Linked DNA regions of Homo sapiens. The protein of the gene in region 3 interacts with the protein of the main gene of each other region in a pairwise test. Each region holds a gene or a part of one and is shown on either strand. Other genes may lie near its edges.

The links.
Region 1: the proteins of BATF2 (region 3) and MAFF come close enough for resonance energy transfer, tested with the Homo sapiens proteins (one large-scale study listed by BioGRID and IntAct).
Region 2: the proteins of BATF2 (region 3) and AKAP19 interact in a two-hybrid assay, tested with the Homo sapiens proteins (one large-scale study listed by BioGRID and IntAct).
Region 4: the proteins of BATF2 (region 3) and DBP come close enough for resonance energy transfer, tested with the Homo sapiens proteins (one large-scale study listed by BioGRID and IntAct).

What each region holds. Positions count from the first base shown.
Region 1 is NC_000022.11:38,200,187-38,205,718, forward strand, and holds the start of MAFF (transcription factor MafF), read left to right. Parts: upstream 1-1,807; 5' UTR 1,808-2,026; exon of another isoform or gene 2,027-2,052; intron 2,053-2,833; exon of another isoform or gene 2,834-2,898; intron 2,899-5,532. UniProt on the Homo sapiens protein: Since they lack a putative transactivation domain, the small Mafs behave as transcriptional repressors when they dimerize among themselves.
Region 2 is NC_000002.12:190,183,391-190,188,287, forward strand, and holds part of AKAP19 (small membrane A-kinase anchor protein), read left to right. Parts: intron 1-4,897.
Region 3 is NC_000011.10:64,986,431-64,991,091, forward strand, and holds the end of BATF2 (basic leucine zipper transcriptional factor ATF-like 2), read right to left. Parts: intron 3,848-4,661; exon of another isoform or gene 3,713-3,847; coding exon of another isoform or gene 3,644-3,712; intron 3,383-3,643; coding exon 2,699-3,382; 3' UTR 1,515-2,698; downstream 1-1,514.
Region 4 is NC_000019.10:48,628,605-48,632,426, forward strand, and holds the end of DBP (D site-binding protein), read right to left. Parts: intron 2,449-3,822; coding exon 2,233-2,448; 3' UTR 1,426-2,232; downstream 1-1,425. Other genes in the region: SPHK2 (sphingosine kinase 2), read left to right, coding at 77-1,169. UniProt on the Homo sapiens protein: This transcriptional activator recognizes and binds to the sequence 5'-RTTAYGTAAY-3' found in the promoter of genes such as albumin, CYP2A4 and CYP2A5. It is not essential for circadian rhythm generation, but modulates important clock output genes.

The DNA.
Region 1 (5,532 bases), on a different chromosome or scaffold from region 3:
CTTCACCTCTCTGAGCCTCCAGTCATGTATTCCTTCAACATGTATTTACTGTGGGCCTACTATGTGCCAAGCACTACTCCAGGCACTGGGCAGGCAGTGGTGAACAAGATAAGCCTGGCCAGGCGCAGTGGCTCATGTCTGCAATCCCAACACTTTGGGAGGCCGAGGTGGGTGGCCTGAGGTCAGGGGTTCAAAACCAGCCTGGCTGGGCATGGTGACTCACCTGTAGTCCAGCTACTGGGGGGCTGAATTCCTTGAACCTGGGAGGCGGAGGTTGCAGTGAGCCAAGATTATGCCACTGCACTCCAGCCTGGGCAACAGAGTGAGACTCTGTCTCAAAAAAAAAAAAAGAAAAAGAAAAAGAAGCAAGGCCTGCCTTCATAAAACATACATTCTGGTTGGGGAAGACAGACAATAACCAGCACTCACATACATAAATGATGAAACACCCTACAGAAGTATTAAGATAATATAAGAACAAATTTCAAGGCTGGGTGCGGTGGCTTGCGCCTGTAATCCCATTACTTTGGGAGGCCAGCGTGGGTGGATTGCCTGAGTCCAGGAGTTTGAGACCAGTTTGGGCAACATGGCAAAACCCTGTCTCTACAAAAAAAAAAAAAAAAAAAAAAAAAAAAAAATACAAAAAATGAACCTAGCATGGTGGTGTGTGCTTATGGTCCCAGCTACTTGGGAGGCTAAGGTGGGAGAATGGCTGGAGTCCAGGAGAAGGAGGTTGCAGTGAGCCGAGATTGTGCCACTGCACTCCAGCCTGGGTGACAGAGTGAGACCCTGTCTCGAAAAAAAAAAAAAAATTCAGAGGTGAAGACTGCTTTAACCAGGGTGGTCAGGAAATGTCTCTCTGAGGCAGTGACATCCGGGCTGACGTGAAAGATGAGAAAGAGTCAGGCAAGTGAACAGAAGACCAGACAGCCAGTGCCAAGGGCCTGTCGCAGGAATGAGCTTGGTATGTTTGGGGGACAGAAAGAAGGGCACTGTGGCCGAAGAGCAGTGGATGAGGAGAGAGTGGCCAAAGAAGGTGTGTAAACAACCTGAGCTTTGTTTTGAGAAGAACATTGGCTGGTATAGAAAGAAAGACTTTGGAGGCAAAGTAGGGAGCCTCGGAGGCTGCTGCCATTGTCCGGGTAAGCTGATGGTGCCGAGACCAGGTGCCATGACTGGAGGTGGTGAGAAATGGTCCTATGCAGGAGACCTGGAGACACCGCTAGCTTGAGTCCTGAGGTGGGGAGGAAGGGAGAGGGAGGGATGGAGCCAGGCTCCAAGGTTTTGGCTTGAGCAGCTGAGATGGGGTGGCAAGGGAGCAGAGGTAGGGCTGACGATCAGGAGCGGGTTTTTGGGCCGAGTCCTCTGCAGTGCCCATCTGACACCCACTGGATGCGCAGAGTGGGCAGCTGGCTATGAGTCTGGAACTCAGAGAAGCTGTTCGCTCCGGAAATACAAACCTGGGGCTCATAGCCATATAAATGTCATTTAAAGCCACGGGACTGGATGAGATCATTAAGGCAGAAGGTCTAGGTCGAAAGAAGAGGGCCAGGACCACTACCTGTAAAATGAGCCAATGACACCTACACCCACGGGGCTCTCGCGAGGTGTCACGTGAACGCACCCAGCGAGCCCTGGAACCAGGCAGAGAATCGCGGCAGCCCCGGGGGCGGGGCTTCCAGGGGGCGGGGTCATACGGGGGCGGGGCCGAGGGACCAAGCGGCCGCTCCTGGCCGGAGGGCGGCCGGGTCGGTGACGTCACCGCATGACTGGGTTTTTATGAATGAAAGGAATCCTGTGAGTGAGTAATTCCGGGAAGCTCGCCTTACAACTCCGCGCGGCCTCGGCCCCCTGCGCCGCCCGCCCCACAACAAAACTCAGCGCAGCGCTCCCGGGCGCCCGGTTCAGAGCGACCTGCGGCTCAGAGCGGAGGGGAGACTGACCGGAGCGCGGATCGGGACAGCGGCCGGGACAGCGGCGAGACGCGCGTGTGTGAGCGCGCCGGACCAAGCGGGCCCAGAAGCGGGTGAGGAACGCGGGACCAGGAGGACGGTGCGCGGGACCCCAAGGCGGCAGGGTTTCTGCGTCCCGGGATGCGCCTGGGGTGGGCGCCCGGGCCCGATCCGTCGGGGCTCCCGGAGCTCCATCGCCCGGACGGCTCGGGGCGGGGAGAAGGGAGCGGCCGTCCCGGGGACGCCGAGGACGGGGCCGAGGCCAGCTCGGGGGAGTGGGGGTGGAGACGGGGCCCCTTCCCGGGGCGCGGGCGGGTAGGCGGCGGCGCCGGGAGGAAGGGGCAGCGCAGGCCGGCGATCTCCGCGTCCGCCCGGCGGGGGCGGGGGCGCTGTGCTCCTACGTGACTCGGTGGGAACAGGCCCTGGCCCGGCGCCCGCGGGCGGTGCGTGCGCGGTTTGTTTACGTCCGAGGGCGGGCGTGTGTTCCCTGGCGGGCGGCCTGGGTATCCTGCCCGGTGCGTGCGTGCGCTGTGTACCTCGGGGGCGTGTGTGCGTGTGTTGTGCTTGTGTGTGCGTGTCCGCGCGCGCGCTCCCTGGGGCCTGTACACCAGCAGTGTGTACCTCGGAGAGGGCGTGCCCTGGGCCGGCCACCGGAGTAAACGCGGAACAAGGACCCGAGCGAAGGAAGCGGACCCGTGCGTCTTCGCACGGGGTCTGGGAATTCTGGCCCGGGCCGCCCCAGTCCTACTACCCGGGGCTGTCCGTCCCCGGCTCTCCCCGGAGTTTCCCAGGGCCTCCGCCACGTGACCCCAGTGTTTGTCTCCCGCCCAGAGCCCGCGCCCGCAGCCACAGGGTGGGGCAAGGTATCAAAGACCCCACCCAGCTGAGCTAGGAGTGAGGGATGTGAGCCACCCCCGCTTGGCACCCCGGTGGATCTGGTAACAAAGTGAGTTGGAGCCCAGGTTCTTGTCCCCAGATTTTGGGGCTTCCTGGGGAGGGAAGAACCAAGGGACTCTCGTTCGTCCCCAGGGTTGCCCATCCCCTCAGTCCCATGAGAACAGGAAGGGCCAGAAAACCTTGACTGCAAGGGTGCGGCGCAGGGAGAGGACCACAGGCTTTTAGCTAGTCCGGGTTCTGGAGGCTGTACCTGCTAGGTCGTGGAGGATGGGGCGGAGCCGGTTTCCGCTCTCCTGGTAGTTTCAGTTCACAAGTGGGACTGGTGAGACTAGACTGACCTACAGCTGGACGCCGGAAGCTAGCTGAGGCTCTGAGCCAGCCGACAGACCCCGAGTGCCCTCACCCTGGGCCAGGCAGGGTCAGTAGGCATTGGGGATAGAACTCTGACTGCACGGAGGGTTAATGAGTGAGGGGTGGGGCCTGACCTAGCCGCCACCCACCCACTCACCCAATAGCCCTGCAGAAAGCACCTGTTTGTCGTAGCCGCCTGCAGGATGGGCTGGGGGCTAGAGATTCCTTGGTCTTAATCCACCTTCCCCCTCCACCCACCCACCCACGGTCTATGGAATTGTGGGAGGGGAGCAATTGAACTTGCTAGGGTGAGGAACCAATGATCTTTTGACTTTGGATCTTTGAACCCTGGGTGAGCTCTGCTACAGCAGCCCGGACCCTCAGTATTCCCATCTACCACTGGGAACTAGGTAACAGCCAGGATGGCAGGATGGTGGGTAGAAGGGGGAAGCTCTGGAAGTCTGTGCAGACAGCGTATTTTCCAGGTGAATTGTGGAAGAGAAAGCAGGGCTGACAGCCCCATGCCAGGAGCTGGGGGTACCCAAGAGTAGGTGGGGTTTGAGTCAGGAGGGTTGGGGCCAGGAGCACAGGAACCAGACAGGCCCACCCTCAAAGCTGGGCAGGAAACATTACAAAGTAGGGCCTGGGGTCAGGGGATGAGGGGAAGTGGCTGGTTGACTCAGTCCCAGATGGAAAGTTAGCACTGAGAAGTTTAACTTCCCATTGAATCACCCCTGGGCCCTGCATTGCCATTGGGCCCTTGTCCTGGACCAGATGCCAGGGATGAGATGAACAGACCAGATCCAGAGACTGCCCTCTGGGAGCTTATAGCTCAGCAGCGGACACAAACTTGAAAAAAGATCCACAGAAGTAAATGCAAAACACAGCTTAGATGGGTGATGTGAGGGAGAAGTCACTGTGGTTTGAAAGTACATAACAGCGCTCTGACTTAGCCAGGGCAATCAAGGAAGGCTTCCCTGGGGAGGTGACTAGTGTGCTGAGTCTGATAGAGTGGTGGTTGTCTGTGAAGCCCTTGAAGGCAGGAGCTGTGATTCACTTCAGGGTCTCCAGGGCCCAGCACAGAGCCTGGAACATAGTAGGTGCTTCTTGGATGTTTGCTGATTGAATGAATGAGCCCTGGATCCCTGCCCTCTAAGAGCTCCACAACACATGGAGAAAAAGGCCTGGGAACCCCAGAGAAACAGGAAGCCAGGGCAGGGGCTGGGGGAATCTTGAAGCAGTCTCCCAAAAGCGAGCAAATCCTTCAGGACTCAGGCAACTTCCTCCCTCACACACACAGGCATGCACTGCCCGCTTGTCCCTTTGGGAAACATTCAGGGATAGTAGAATTTGCTGTCTGTTCATTCATCTGTTAGCATACGATCCTGGGAGAGAGTGGACAGGAATACGGTTGAGGCCTGAGGACCCTACTGTGTTGGCTTGCGGGGAGGCTGGCATTGCAGGGTTTTGAAATGGGCCAAGCACGGACAGGCTCGTGGGTTTGTGTCAGTAGTGATTCCTCTGACAGCTCTTGGGGGAGGATCAATGATGGGGATTGGAGACGGAGGGCAAGGCAAGAGGCTGGTGAGCAGGCGGTTGTGGTCATGGTCCAGATGAAGGAGGAAGTGGTCTGTGGCTGTGCAGGTGGAGAAGAGGGCTAGTCTGATAGTCTGATAGTTTGTGTCTCATGCCCCCACCTCCAGGAAGCCTTCACCGCTTTCCTTTCCCTACCTCCATTCTGCTGGTGGTCTTGGAGCTCTGGGCCAGAATCTGAAACTCTAAACTCAGAGACAGTCATTGTTGGAAGGTACCTTAGGCTCGGAGGACGTTTGGCATAGTGGGAAAACTGAGGCCCAGAGAGAGGGAGTGCCGTACCTGAGGCCACACAGCGAGTGTGAGAGGGTACCTGAACTGGGGCTGGAACCCCAGGCCGTTGCTTCTCTGTGGTGCTTGGTTCTTCCAGCCTTGCTCCCCTTCCAGCAGGGAGGAGGCTCCAGCAGTGCTGACTGCCAAGAGCTAGGAAAACACATTTTTTCCCTGTCCTCACAGAGCGAGCAGAATGGCTCAGCAGCCAGAAAGGAGCCCATGCCAGCGGGTGGGCCTTCTACAGGATGTCTCTGGAGTGGACTGGTGGGGCCAGGGAGGGGGACGTTGGAGGGTTGTGGCTGCTGACTGGACAAGGCAGTTGTCAGTCCCTCAAGAGTCACCTCTCTCCTTATGCCTCCAGAAGACGTCATGAACCTGCAGACCCTGGAGGTCAGCTCTGCTGGCTTCCAAGGGAAGAAGCCAGGGAGAGGTGGTGGTGGCCGACATAGAAGACAGAGGACCCCTG
Region 2 (4,897 bases), on a different chromosome or scaffold from region 3:
ATGTCTTGCTGAAAAGTAAAGATCTTGCATATTCCCTGATCTACCACAAAAGTAAATAACATTAGTTTAAAAATGAATGATTCTTAGCAAATTGTTAGTTCCTAGAAATCCGCAGTCTTTTCCTCCACCCCTCATTTTTCCTTGTTTAATGTTTAAGTTTCGAATTTTGCCAGAGATAGATGTCAAACTATTAGTCTGTAAAGTCTAGGAATTCTAATTCTTTCTTTTAATTTTGAATATTAAAAATAAAAACACTGGGGGAAAAAAGTTCTGTTTGAATCTCTAGTCTCTTGAGACTGCCCTTCTTCTCCATGTTTTTATAGAGGTTGTCAGAATAGTTCTGTGCTGACATCTGCAGGTTCTTTTGGTACCCTGGAATATAATTCACCAGAATGTGAAGGCATGGACTATTTTAAAATGACCTCTTCTGCTTGCACCTTAGTTCTCTCTTAGTGAGGTTTCCATACTTTCCAGCTTGAAAATCATTTGCTTTTAAGGGAGCAAAATGTTGCTGAGCAGTTTTGTTTTCTTTCTCATTAGAATACGCTATCTATCCTTGGATTTGAGAATTTTAAAATGAGCCTTTCTTACTATACTTTCCATATAGTAAGTATACTATGCACAACATGCACTAAGTCGGTGGTTGAGAAGTAGAACCACTCATGGTGTTATAATGTTAAAAGTTTTGGCAGTAGTAAATAACTCTAATCAGTATCTCACATGGGAAGAGCCTTGTATTTTAAGAATGAATTTATTCCTTGTAAGTTAAAAGTTGTGAAATTAAGAGTGTTTCACAAGGGGCTGAAGGTAACATAAATTAGTGAAGCTGAATGGGAGGGAGTAACAGATATGTGACCCAAAGAGTGAATGCCTAGCTTAGAAATATTCTAATTCAGAACAGTTTCAACACTGCATTGGCCCAACAAAACACTGGCCCAAACACTACTGCAAGTTTGTAGTCTTTGCATGTAAACAGCCTGCAAGAGGCAGAACTATGTAAATTTCACTGTGTTCTTCCCAACATCTAACATACTATAGGCACATGGATAGTTGATAAATAGGAAAACTTTAGTAAGCATTCATTAATCGCCTTGATGTAGAGAACTGTTCTGTACAAAATAAAGAAAAAAATAACTCCTGCCCTTGAGGAATATCTAATCTCATTTGGGGAGACAGCATTTATAAATTAAAGACTAGACTTCAGTTCAAGAACAGAATTCTGAGGAAGGGCGGGAGGAGGACTAGGAAGTCTGCAATAAGGAGATACGGCTTCCCCTATCCTCAAAGATAGTACTTGGGTTTAAGTAAGGAACAGGGGAAAGGGTGCTGGGTGGAGATAAAGGCGAGGTGGTGTGTTTCAACTTAAAGGAGGACTAGGAGTAGGAAATGAGAATGGGTGAGCCAAGGAGACTCACTTGATGGGAGAGGAAATTTCCTTGTATTAGTGAGAAATTAAGTCCATTGGGTAAAAACAGGGCTTTAAAAAATGGTTACATTAAATGTACCTCTCTTCCCCCAAGACACTGTACTGTTAGGCCACAGAAAATAGGAACCATACAGTAACTCTTTAGGTAAAGATGTGGAGTATATGGATCATGAAAGAACTATGAAACTTTAAATGGCAAAATTTTCTGAATTTCTTGGTCCTCTGACCTAGAGTCCTAGTGAATTTGAACACTGTTCTTCCATGTCTCTATACCAGAGTAATGATTCTTTTCAGTGCTCAAAATTACATATACTGCTGCCTAGAATTTAATTCAGTGCACAGCACTTAACACTCTTTTATTAATTTATGCCTCCTACTTGTTCTAAAATGAAGTGGTTTTACTACATAAAGACTAATAGAAATTGAATTTGTAGGGGAGGAAAAAAGCTGTCCTCTACCCTCTTAGGTTTGTGACCAAGGCCTGTGAATCAAACTGATAAAAGAGTAATGGCATAAATAGAACAGATTTAAACACACGTATGCACAGGAGTTTGCAAAAGAAATGTGACTGGAGGAGGTGGTTAGAATTTGGGGCTTATCTACCAACTTAACAAAATGATAAAGCGGGAAGAGGTTCTAGATCAGATTTTCTTTACTAGTTGGTCAGAGCTCCTTTTCATTTTTCTGTGAGGATTTATATTATGGTGCTGGAGGAATTGCTGCAGATTGAAGGTCAACATTCATGGCCATAAATAGGAGTGGCCAGATGAAGCCACCTGGTAGCCAGAGTGAAGCCCAGAAGGGCTTAGGGAAATACCTGCTTGTGTATGTGTGTGGTTTTTTTCCTCTACCTGGAGGACCTGGTAAATGAGATGAAGTATTGATACCTGGACTTAAGACATCTATCGCCTGTTCAACAGTTAGTCTATCATCTAATTGTTCAAAATCCTAAATTACTGTTGTCATTCTTAGATTATAATTCTCTTTCCTCAATTATAATCTGGAGATATAATACAACACTTAATAATTAGATGTTAGTAGCTTTAGGAGACAATCTGGAGAGATAAGAAATGGAAATAACACAGAACATGTTCCACGTTCCAAGGGAAGTTCTAGATGCTTTACATATAGATTCACAATTTTTATTTTTTTGAGACAGAGTCTTCACTCTGTCGCCCAGGCTGGAGTGCAGTGGTGCGATCTTGGCTCTCTGCAACTTCTGCCTCCCAGGTTCAAACGATTCTGCTGCCTCAGCCTCCCTAGTAGCTGGGATTACAGGCATATGCCACCACACCTGGCTGATTTTTTTAGTTTTAGTAGAGATGGGGTTTCACCATGTTGGCCAGGCTGGTCATGAACTCCTGACCTCAGGTGATCCACCCACTTTGGCCTCCCAAAGCACTGGGATTACAGGCGTGAGCCACCATGCCCAACCAAAATCACAATTTTTAGATGACTGAGGTAGAGCCCAGTTCACAGATAAAATCATACCATACCGCTTTATTCAGGTTTATTAGAATCTCAAACATTGTCTCATTTCTTAACAATGTTATTTTCTCTGCCTCTCTATTGAGAAATTTTGGCCCCAAGTGTGACCACATGGAGTCATCCTGAGCCCATCCTGTCAGTGACCAGCTGTACAGTGTGTGTGCTCTAAGTGCCTAAGGATGAAACCGACTTCTCAGTTTCTAAGGTCCCTACAGTAGTGTTCTTTCGGTGACCTTCATACTGACCAAAGTCATATATACAGTATTTTGTAGCTTTTCCTTTTTGGTGAAAGACAAAGAACACTACATTTAAATTATGTCCATTTCTGTTTGCCTGTTTAACCAATGTCATTTGATCCTGTTGTGAATTTATAGTCCAAGTGAATGATTCTCAATACTCCCAGTACAAAGACCTCCACTTACTGTCCAGTTTTCACGGAGCCCTACAAGAAAGTATATTCTTAGTATCCATTATTAGAGAACATATAATGACAAATATGTTACTAGGAACTGAGATATATGTATTTTTTATAAACTTATTTTTTATTTTTTTTGAGACTGAGTCTCACTCTATCGCCCAGGCTGGAGTGCAGTGGCGTGACCATGGCTCACTGCAACTTCCGCCTCCCAGGTTCAAGTGATTCTTGTGCCTCTGTCTCCTGAGTAGCTGGAATTACAGGCACCTGCTACCATGCCCAGCTGATTTTTGTATCTTTAGTAGAGATGGCATTTCACCATGTTGGCCAGGCTGGTCTTGAACTCCTGACCTCAGGTGATCTGCCCACCTCGAGTTATGTTTTAATGAATTGGTATTTTTATTAATCACATCTACACTGAAATTTGAAAGACATTTTATATATATATGCATAAAACTTTTTCAAAGACCACAACATGGTTTTTTTATATATTTACATTAATTCAGGGTGAGACCAATTTTAAGCAATAACTTGAGATATAAGGCATCTTAGAAACCTGTGTAAAGGCTTAAGAATATGACATAAAATGGGACAATGGTAAAATAAACCATCCCTGTTAATCCAGTGTTTAAGATGGACTTCTGGGGAGTTAGCAGCCTATTCGTTTACACAGCAGATTTTAGAAGTTACTTTTTTTTTTTTTTTTTGCTGGTTTTGTGTTTGGGTCCAACTCATGTCCAAATTATGGCCTTTTTGTGATACCTTCCACTGGCATATTCCCAAGGAATTTACTCCTTTTGATGACACTGCACCCAGAATGGAGGAACACAGCTACAAAATGAACTATAAAGAAGGGCTAGGCAGGCATGGTGGCTCACACCTATCATCCCAGCACTTTGAGAGGCCAAGGCAGAAGGATCACTTGACGCCAGGAGTTCACAACCAGCCTGGGCAATATGGCTGTCTCTACAAACAATATAAAAAATAACGTGGGCATGGTGGCACGTGCCTATAGTCGCAGGTACTCAGGAGGCTGAAGCCAGAGAATAGTTTGAACCCAGGAGTTCGAGGCTGCTGTGAGCCACAACTGGCCACTGTACTCCAGCCCAGGCGATGGACTGAGACCCTGGCTCTAGGAGAAAAAAGGTGGGTAGCTGCAGTAAATCACATTTTTTCTTTGACGGACCCAACAGAAGGCCCAGTTGTTGCTAGATCTCTTCCTGAGGATAGTGTCAGGGCTCATTCTATATTTTTAGAGCTTTGAGCCTTCAAATAACATTGAAACATGTAAAGGGGCTTTCTTTTCCTCATGTATGACTGTCATGTGTATATATGTGTCTGTGCATTGTGATTTGAGGGGTAGGAGACAGAGGGAGAGGGAGTGGTGGGTGGAAGGGCACTGTTAGATTTTAATACTTATAGCCTGAATAAATTATATTCTCTTTCTCCTTTTGATTTTGTTAATTTTGGAAGCACTTACATTCTATGGGCGCAGGTTCTAAACACATAGTAGACACTCAATATAGACTGGTTGGATGGTTAAGGGATGCTCTGATAGTTCTTTTGTG
Region 3 (4,661 bases):
AGAGTTACTAGAGGCATCATTGAGTTAATCCAAGTAAAATAGCACAGAGCCTACTATACTTTAGGGTATACAGATACAGCACGACCATGCTGTCCTCATCCTCCACTGAGTCCTCGTGCCCAGAGTATGTTGAATCCTGTCCCAGACTCCAGCCCACCTCTAACCAACAGCACCTTCGCTTCCCTCCCACCTGTTTGCTTTCCCTGAATCGCTGGTGACCATGGCTCTGCTGCCATCCACAGCCCTGTGACTTCCCTTTGCTATGTGAACCTGGCACAATGGTTACTTGTATGTGTCCTCTTGGCTGGGCCACAGTGCCCAGATATGTGGTCAAACATTATTCTGAATGTTTCTGTGAATGTGTTTTTGGACGAGATCAACATTGAAGTTGGTGGGCTTTGAATAAAGCAGGTTGCCCTCCATAATGTAGGTGGGCCTCATCTAATCGACTGAAGGCCTGAATAGAACAAAAAGACTAACCTTTTCCAAGCTAGAGTAAGTTCTGCAGCTGGTGGCCTTTGGACTTGAACTGCAACAGCAGCACTTTCCTGGGGCTCCAGCCTGACAATTCACCCTGAAGAATTTGGACTTGCCAACCTCCATCATCACATGAGCCAATTTCTTAAAATAAGTCTCCCTTGGCAGGGCGTGGTGGTTCACGCCTGTAATCCCAGCACTTTGGGAGGACAAGGCGGGCAGATCACTTGAGGTCAAGAGTTCGAGACCAGCCTGGCCAACATGGTGGAACCCCATCTCTACTAAAAATACAAAAATTAGCTGGGCGTGAGGCTGGGTGTGGTGGCTCATGCCTGTAATCCCAGCACTTTGGGAGGCCGAGGCAGGCAGATCACAATGTCAGGAGATCGAGACCATCCTGGCTAACATGGTGAAACCCTGTCTCTACTAAAAATACAAAAAAAAAAAAAAAAAAAAAATTAGCCGGGCATGGTGGCAGGCGCCTGTAGTCCAGGAGACTGAGTCAGGAGAATGGCGTGAACCCGGGAGGCGGAGCTTGCAGTGAGCCGAGATTGCACCACTGCACTCCAGCCTGGGCGACAGAGCGAGATTCTGTCTCAAAAAAAGGAAAAAATTAGCTGGGTGTGGTGGTGGGCACCTGTAATCCCCACTACTTGGGAGGCTGAGGCAGGAGAATCACTTGAGCCCGGGAGGCGAAGGTTGCAGTGAGCCGAGATTGCACCATTGCACTCCAGCCTGGGTGACAAGAGTGAAACTCCATCTCAAAAAAAAAACAACATTAAAAAAAAAATCTCTCTGTCTTCACACACACACACACACACACACACACACACTCTATTGGTTCTATTTCTCTAGAGAACACTGACTAATACACCTGCGCAAGTCCGTCTCATCTCTGAGCCTCAGTTTCCTCATCTGTAGTATTGGAGGGAGATTAATTAGCTGGTTCATGAGGGGTTGCCCATCTCTGTTATTCTCTCTTTTTTCAAAGACTCTGTAGGTTACAAAGAGAGGTTTAAGTAACTAGGCAAAGCAGAAAAGATTGCAAAACACTTTATTTCCATCACATATGTGCCAAGACTTGTGTTCTGTATCCAGGAGTGTGTTAGATACTAACATAGTGTTTCATTTACATGTGTGTGAAACCTGGGTGAAGAGCCAGGGTTTCTCTCCCCCACCCGCCTCAGAGTGCTTGTCCTGGAATCAGAGTGTAAAACCCCCTCTTGAAGCAGACACCAAAACTGAACTTCCACCCGGTCATGGGCCCTGCTCTTCCTGCTGTCAGCCTAGTCCAAAGAGCAATGAGGGAACTGCTTAGGAGGGGTCTGAGGGTGATGAGGGCCTGGGGGCCACACAGGGGTGGGTGCTGTCAGGTACAAGCCCATCCCTGCCTGCAAATAACCTTGCACAGGGTCCTTCCTCATTCTTTCCTCTTCCTTTTTGTTTATGAGATGAATGGCTCTTCTGCTGTGGCTTTAGGGGCAGTGGGGAGGCAGGGAGCTATTTGGGAACAGCCTGGAAAGCTGACCCTGCAGAATCTCCCAGAAGCCTTGGTGTGGCTATGGGTACCCAGGCTGTAGAAATCCCAGATGGTCCTCTTCCAGACCTCTCCCCAACTCCAGCTCACAGTTTCAGCTTCTTGGCACTGAAAACACTACTAGGGGAAGCAAGAGTCCACTTCAGGGCTTCTGCTTGGCCTCTACCCACCAGGGCTTGGACTCTGGACCTGCCCCAGCTAGGTTGGGGTTTCTGGGACTGCATGGCTCTGGCCCTGGAATCACGAAGCAGTGGGGAGAGCCCTTCTCTGCTCTGAGCATGCAAACCTTCTCACACCAGCCCACGGTTTCCAGGATTTCAGCCCCTAGGATGCCTGGGCCAGGACAGGAGAAGGAGGAGCAGAGGGTGGTGTTTCGGGCTCCAAGAAAGTCTTCGTGACCTTGGACTTGTCACTTGGCTTCCCTGAGCCTCAGTTTCCTTGTCTGAAAAAGTGGAGTGATAATCTCGATTTCTCAGGTCAACTGTGAGGTTGAAATAAGATATTGGTGGTGACAGGGCCTGTCACAGTGGGAGGCATCAGTGGTGGCTTCCTTTTCGACTGTGAAATCCTGGGCCAGCTGGTCAGCCACGCAGGGCAGCACCCAGTAGTGAGGGAGGAGAGGCCCGTGTGCTAAGGCTGCTTCCTGAGCCCAAAGAAGGGGCCAACCCAGCTCCGAAGACCAGGTTAGAAGTGGACTTGAGCAGAGGAGAGCAGAGGAAAGGCCAGGAGAGGGTGAGGGCTGGGATCCACAACCAGCCCTTGCCAAGTGGCTGCTGAGAGAGCAGGTTTGTGCTCCCTGCTCTGCAGACGTGCAAGCCCCAGGGCAGAGGAAGGGTTGTCGGGAGAGGACCCCAGCTTCCCTCTGGTGGGATGCTCCAGCTCGAGGGGCTGTGGAGGGGCAGTTTGGGCCGTGAGGCTGGGCTGGAGGGCACTGAGCTTAGAGGAAGACCCCTGCAGGCTGGAACCAGTGTGCGAGGCAAACAGGAGAGGGCTGGGGGACAGCTGGACAGGAGGTTCAGCAACCACAGCGGGGCCAAGGGACAGTGAGGGCAGGGGGCACTGGAGGAGGCTGGGAGAATCATGAGGCTGTGGACCTGGAGAGAGCGGCTGAGCTGGGTAACAGGAACCCGGGGTCTGGAACAGCTCCAGCTGCTCCCGGCAGCCATGTTGTCCCTGTGGGCCAGGGCCCAGGAGCCCCTCAGCCTGGTCCCAGCAGCCCAGGAGCCCTGGAGCTGAGCAGGAGGCACAATCCATGGGGCACAGGCGCTCATGCACGTGCAGGGTCCGGCTCCACCACGCCAGCTCGGCCTGCAGGGACTGGATCTCCTTCCGCAGGGCGAGGTTGTCTTTTTCCAGAGACTCGTGCTGCTGCAGAGAAGCAGATGGGCGGGGAGGGGAACCTCAGCCAGTGTCAGGGGCCCCGCATGAGCCTTAGCCCCTTCCAGGGTCCTCAACTTCAGGAGAAAGATGCCACCACCATTGGAATAGCCAAGTGGGGTCTCTTGGCCACTCTCTGGCCAGCCCTTCATAACCACCTACCAAGTCTCCCCTGTCCCACCCTCTGAAGGGGGCTCAGATCCGCCTGCTGTCATCCCACCACTAGTGCCCTGAGCCGGTGCCATTTCTCACCTGGGATATGCACGGGCCTCCAACCCGTGTGTCCCCCAAACCACCTATTCTCTTGCCCACAGGAGCCATTCAGCAACCATGTCATTAATTGCAGGTTAAAGCCCTTTAGAGGCACCCACCAAATTCCCTGTGGTAGAATTCCAGGCCTGTGTAGTGGCTGCAGCTCAGACCTCCGGTCTCCTCTCTCTCGCCTTCTTTCTTGCTCCCCTCCCTTCCTGACCCTCACATGAACTCTGCTTCCCGGCCACATTTCCTGTTTCCTCTGCCTGGACACCCTTCCGCCGCCCTTCTCTGTGCAAATCCCAACAGGGCCTTCCCGTGGCAACCTTGATGTCATTCTGTCCTAGATTGCTTATTGCCACTGCCCTTTTGAGGGCCCAGAACTCGCCCCTACGAGCACTGTGGGAGGATTCAGGGGATTGTTTTACAGGTTGACAGCATGAGTGTGTTCGATTCTGCATCCCTGAATCAGCATTTATTAAGTTCTGTTCTGCTGAACGCCGGTTCTGAGAACCCCTGAGACACAATCAATGTGCAGTTCTAAATAACCATTTATGATGACAGTAATGGTAAAAATGCAGAAAGAATTTTATATCCACATCTCACAGGGCTGAATAAATTGAACGACTTCCTTCAGTCCCCCACCCCCTTTTCTGGACACTTTGAAAGAAGAAGTTGCAAAGGTGTTTTGCATAAAAATGTGGTTTTGGCCCTGGACTCAAAGTTCTTTTTTTTGAGATGGAGTCTGGCTCTGTCGCCCAGGCTGGAGTGCAGTGGCTCGATCTCGGCTCACTGCAAGCTCAAGCTCCCAGGTTCACACCATTCTCCTGCCTCAGCCTCCTGAGTAGCTGGGACCACAGGCGCCCGCCACCACGCCTGGCTAATATTTTGTATTTTTAGTAGAGACGGGGTTTCACCATGTTAGCCAGGATGGTCTCGATCTCCTGACCTCGTGATCTGCCTGCCTCGGCCTCCCAAAGTTCTGGGATTACAGGCGTGAGCCACCGCGCCCGGCCCT
Region 4 (3,822 bases), on a different chromosome or scaffold from region 3:
GCTTTCCTACCTGTCTCTTTCCCCAACCCCTGTTTGCTCCTTCCTTCTGTGTGTCCGTCCATCTCCGGCTGTGAAGATTTGAGCCAGCCCTGGGCCTCGACCTGTTGCTCAACTGCTCACTGTTGCTGTGCCGGGGTGGTGGCCACCCACTGGACCTGCTCTCCGTGACGCTGGCCTCGGGCTCCCGCTGTTTCTCCTTCCTGTCTGTGGCCTGGGGCTTCGTGTCAGATGTGGATATCCAGAGCGAGCGCTTCAGGGCCTTGGGCAGTGCCCGCTTCACACTGGGCACGGTGCTGGGCCTCGCCACACTGCACACCTACCGCGGACGCCTCTCCTACCTCCCCGCCACTGTGGAACCTGCCTCGCCCACCCCTGCCCATAGCCTGCCTCGTGCCAAGTCGGAGCTGACCCTAACCCCAGACCCAGCCCCGCCCATGGCCCACTCACCCCTGCATCGTTCTGTGTCTGACCTGCCTCTTCCCCTGCCCCAGCCTGCCCTGGCCTCTCCTGGCTCGCCAGAACCCCTGCCCATCCTGTCCCTCAACGGTGGGGGCCCAGAGCTGGCTGGGGACTGGGGTGGGGCTGGGGATGCTCCGCTGTCCCCGGACCCACTGCTGTCTTCACCTCCTGGCTCTCCCAAGGCAGCTCTACACTCACCCGTCTCCGAAGGGGCCCCCGTAATTCCCCCATCCTCTGGGCTCCCACTTCCCACCCCTGATGCCCGGGTAGGGGCCTCCACCTGCGGCCCGCCCGACCACCTGCTGCCTCCGCTGGGCACCCCGCTGCCCCCAGACTGGGTGACGCTGGAGGGGGACTTTGTGCTCATGTTGGCCATCTCGCCCAGCCACCTAGGCGCTGACCTGGTGGCAGCTCCGCATGCGCGCTTCGACGACGGCCTGGTGCACCTGTGCTGGGTGCGTAGCGGCATCTCGCGGGCTGCGCTGCTGCGCCTTTTCTTGGCCATGGAGCGTGGTAGCCACTTCAGCCTGGGCTGTCCGCAGCTGGGCTACGCCGCGGCCCGTGCCTTCCGCCTAGAGCCGCTCACACCACGCGGCGTGCTCACAGTGGACGGGGAGCAGGTGGAGTATGGGCCGCTACAGGCACAGATGCACCCTGGCATCGGTACACTGCTCACTGGGCCTCCTGGCTGCCCGGGGCGGGAGCCCTGAAACTAAACAAGCTTGGTACCCGCCGGGGGCGGGGCCTACATTCCAATGGGGCGGAGCCTGAGCTAGGGGGTGTGGCCTGGCTGCTAGAGTTGTGGTGGCAGGGGCCCTGGCCCCGTCTCAGGATTGCGCTCGCTTTCATGGGACCAGACGTGATGCTGGAAGGTGGGCGTCGTCACGGTTAAAGAGAAATGGGCTCGTCCCGAGGGTAGTGCCTGATCAATGAGGGCGGGGCCTGGCGTCTGATCTGGGGCCGCCCTTACGGGGCAGGGCTCAGTCCTGACGCTTGCCACCTGCTCCTACCCGGCCAGGATGGCTGAGGGCGGAGTCTATTTTACGCGTCGCCCAATGACAGGACCTGGAATGTACTGGCTGGGGTAGGCCTCAGTGAGTCGGCCGGTCAGGGCCCGCAGCCTCGCCCCATCCACTCCGGTGCCTCCATTTAGCTGGCCAATCAGCCCAGGAGGGGCAGGTTCCCCGGGGCCGGCGCTAGGATTTGCACTAATGTTCCTCTCCCCGCGGGTGGGGGCGGGGAAATTCATATCCCCTGTTCGTCTCATGCGCGTCCTCCGTCCCCAATCTAAAAAGCAATTGAAAAGGTCTATGCAATAAAGGCAGTCGCTTCATTCCTCTCAGACCTTCTGCCCTTCCTCCATCCGACAGCCCGCGGGAGGACTCAGACTCCAGCACTTCCAGCAGCGCCTGCCCTCTATGGACGACAGCCCGGAGCTGCCCACGGGCTGCAGCCAGTATGCCAGGGAGCTGCCCTCTTCTTCCACAACAGCTGGCTCTGGGGTTCTCAAGATTTATTCAGGATCGTGTTAACGGAGGCGGTGGGAGGATAGGGTCCCTGACGTGCCGGGGACACACACAGAGAACCCTCCCCGCCCCCGCAAGGGAGGGGGGAGGCTCGCTTTTTCTTAAAAATATAAATGTATTTATCTGCATTATCACGTCCCTGGGGCACCCAGCTGGCCGGCCCGTGGGCCACAGGGCAGGAAGGGAACAGGGCGTAAGTCTCAGCAAGGCGGAGGAGAGCTCCGCCAGGTGGGGATGTGGGGCAGCCTCACAGGGCCCCGTGCTGGGCCTGGTATCGGGACAGCACGGCGCGGTAGTGGGACAGCTCCTGGCGCACGGCCACAACTTCCTGCCGCAGCAGGGCGTTCTCCTTCTCCAGGAAGGCCGCCCGCACCGATATCTGGTTCTCCTTGAGCCGCCGGGCGTCACGGGACCGCTTGGCTGCCTCGTTGTTCTTGTACCGCCGGCTCCAGTATTTCTCATCCTGCAGGAGAAGAGGGGGAGAGCACTGAGGTCCAGAGGGACCCAGGTCCCAGCGAGAGAGGAAGGGAGCCCCAGCAGCGGGGCCTAAACCACACCAGGTCTCTGCTGGGATAGGTACCCAAGGGTCTGCCTTTCTAGGGCCCTGGTTGCTAAGGAGATTGGGCCCCTAGCAACAGTAAAGGCATGAGATAGACCCCCCACCCTCAAGCAACTCGCTTCAAGTCTCCACTCTGCAAAGCGGACCCCAGCCCTCCCCACATGATAAAGGCCTGCATGCAGTTAGCTCTTGCTTGCTAAGGATGCTTGTTCCCTAGCAACAAGGCCTTCATGGTCTGAGGGCTTCTCCCAATGAAGAGCACTGCCCTGCCCTGCACATTGCCTTTCCAGATCCTGGTTGCTAAGGAAAGCTTGGTGCCCTGGTGATGGGGTTTGGTGTCCCATAAAATCCTCGCAGAGCTGGGGCCTTCTGACCTGGTTGCCAAGGCAACCTCATCCATCCTTGGCAAACAAAAGTGAGGTCTAAGTGGTTTCAATGACTGTGGCCAGCCTCTGACCTGCTGGCCTTGAACTGAGGCCAGAGAATAGCCTCCTCCCCAGTAGGACCTGACTGAGAGAAGAGCTGTCTCTTAGGAAAGGGGACTATCCTGAGACCTCCCCAGAGGATTATACCTAAAGTCCTCCCATCCTGGAAGTTGGTTCCTAAGGAAGACTCCTCCTTAGTAACCAAGGACCACGGGGCTCAGAAAGATGCTCTCTACTCCACTATTTAATTAAAGCCCAGTTCCTGCTTGTGAGGGTAAATCCAGTCCCTAGCAACAGGGCCCTCTAGAAGGAGAAACCACTGGTGTAGATCTGACTTCCAGGCCAGTCCTAGGTGCTTCAAGTAGCTATGTGTTACGCAAGGGTATGGCAAAGTCTTGTTTGTTTTTGAGATGGAGTCTCGCTCTGTCGTTCAGGCTGGAATGCAGTGGCATGATCTCGGCTCATTGCAACCTCCACCTCCCAGGTTCAAGCGATTCTCCTGCCTCAGCCTCCCAAGTAGCTGGGATTATAGGTGCCCGCTACCATGTCCGGCTAATTTTTGTTCTTTTTTTTTTTTTTTGAGATGGAGTTCTCACTCTGTCGCCCAGGCTGGAGTGCAGTGGCGCGATCTCGGCTCACTGCAACCTCCGTCTCCTGGGTTCAAGCGATTTTCCTACATTAGCCTCCCAAGTAGCTGGGACTACAGATGAGTGCCACCATGCCCAGCTAATTTTTGTATTTTTTTGTAGAGACGGGGTTTCACCATGTTGGCCAGGATGGTCTCCTGATCTCGTGATCTGTCCGCCTCGGCCTCCCAAAGTGCTGTGATTACAGGTGTGAGACACCACACCCG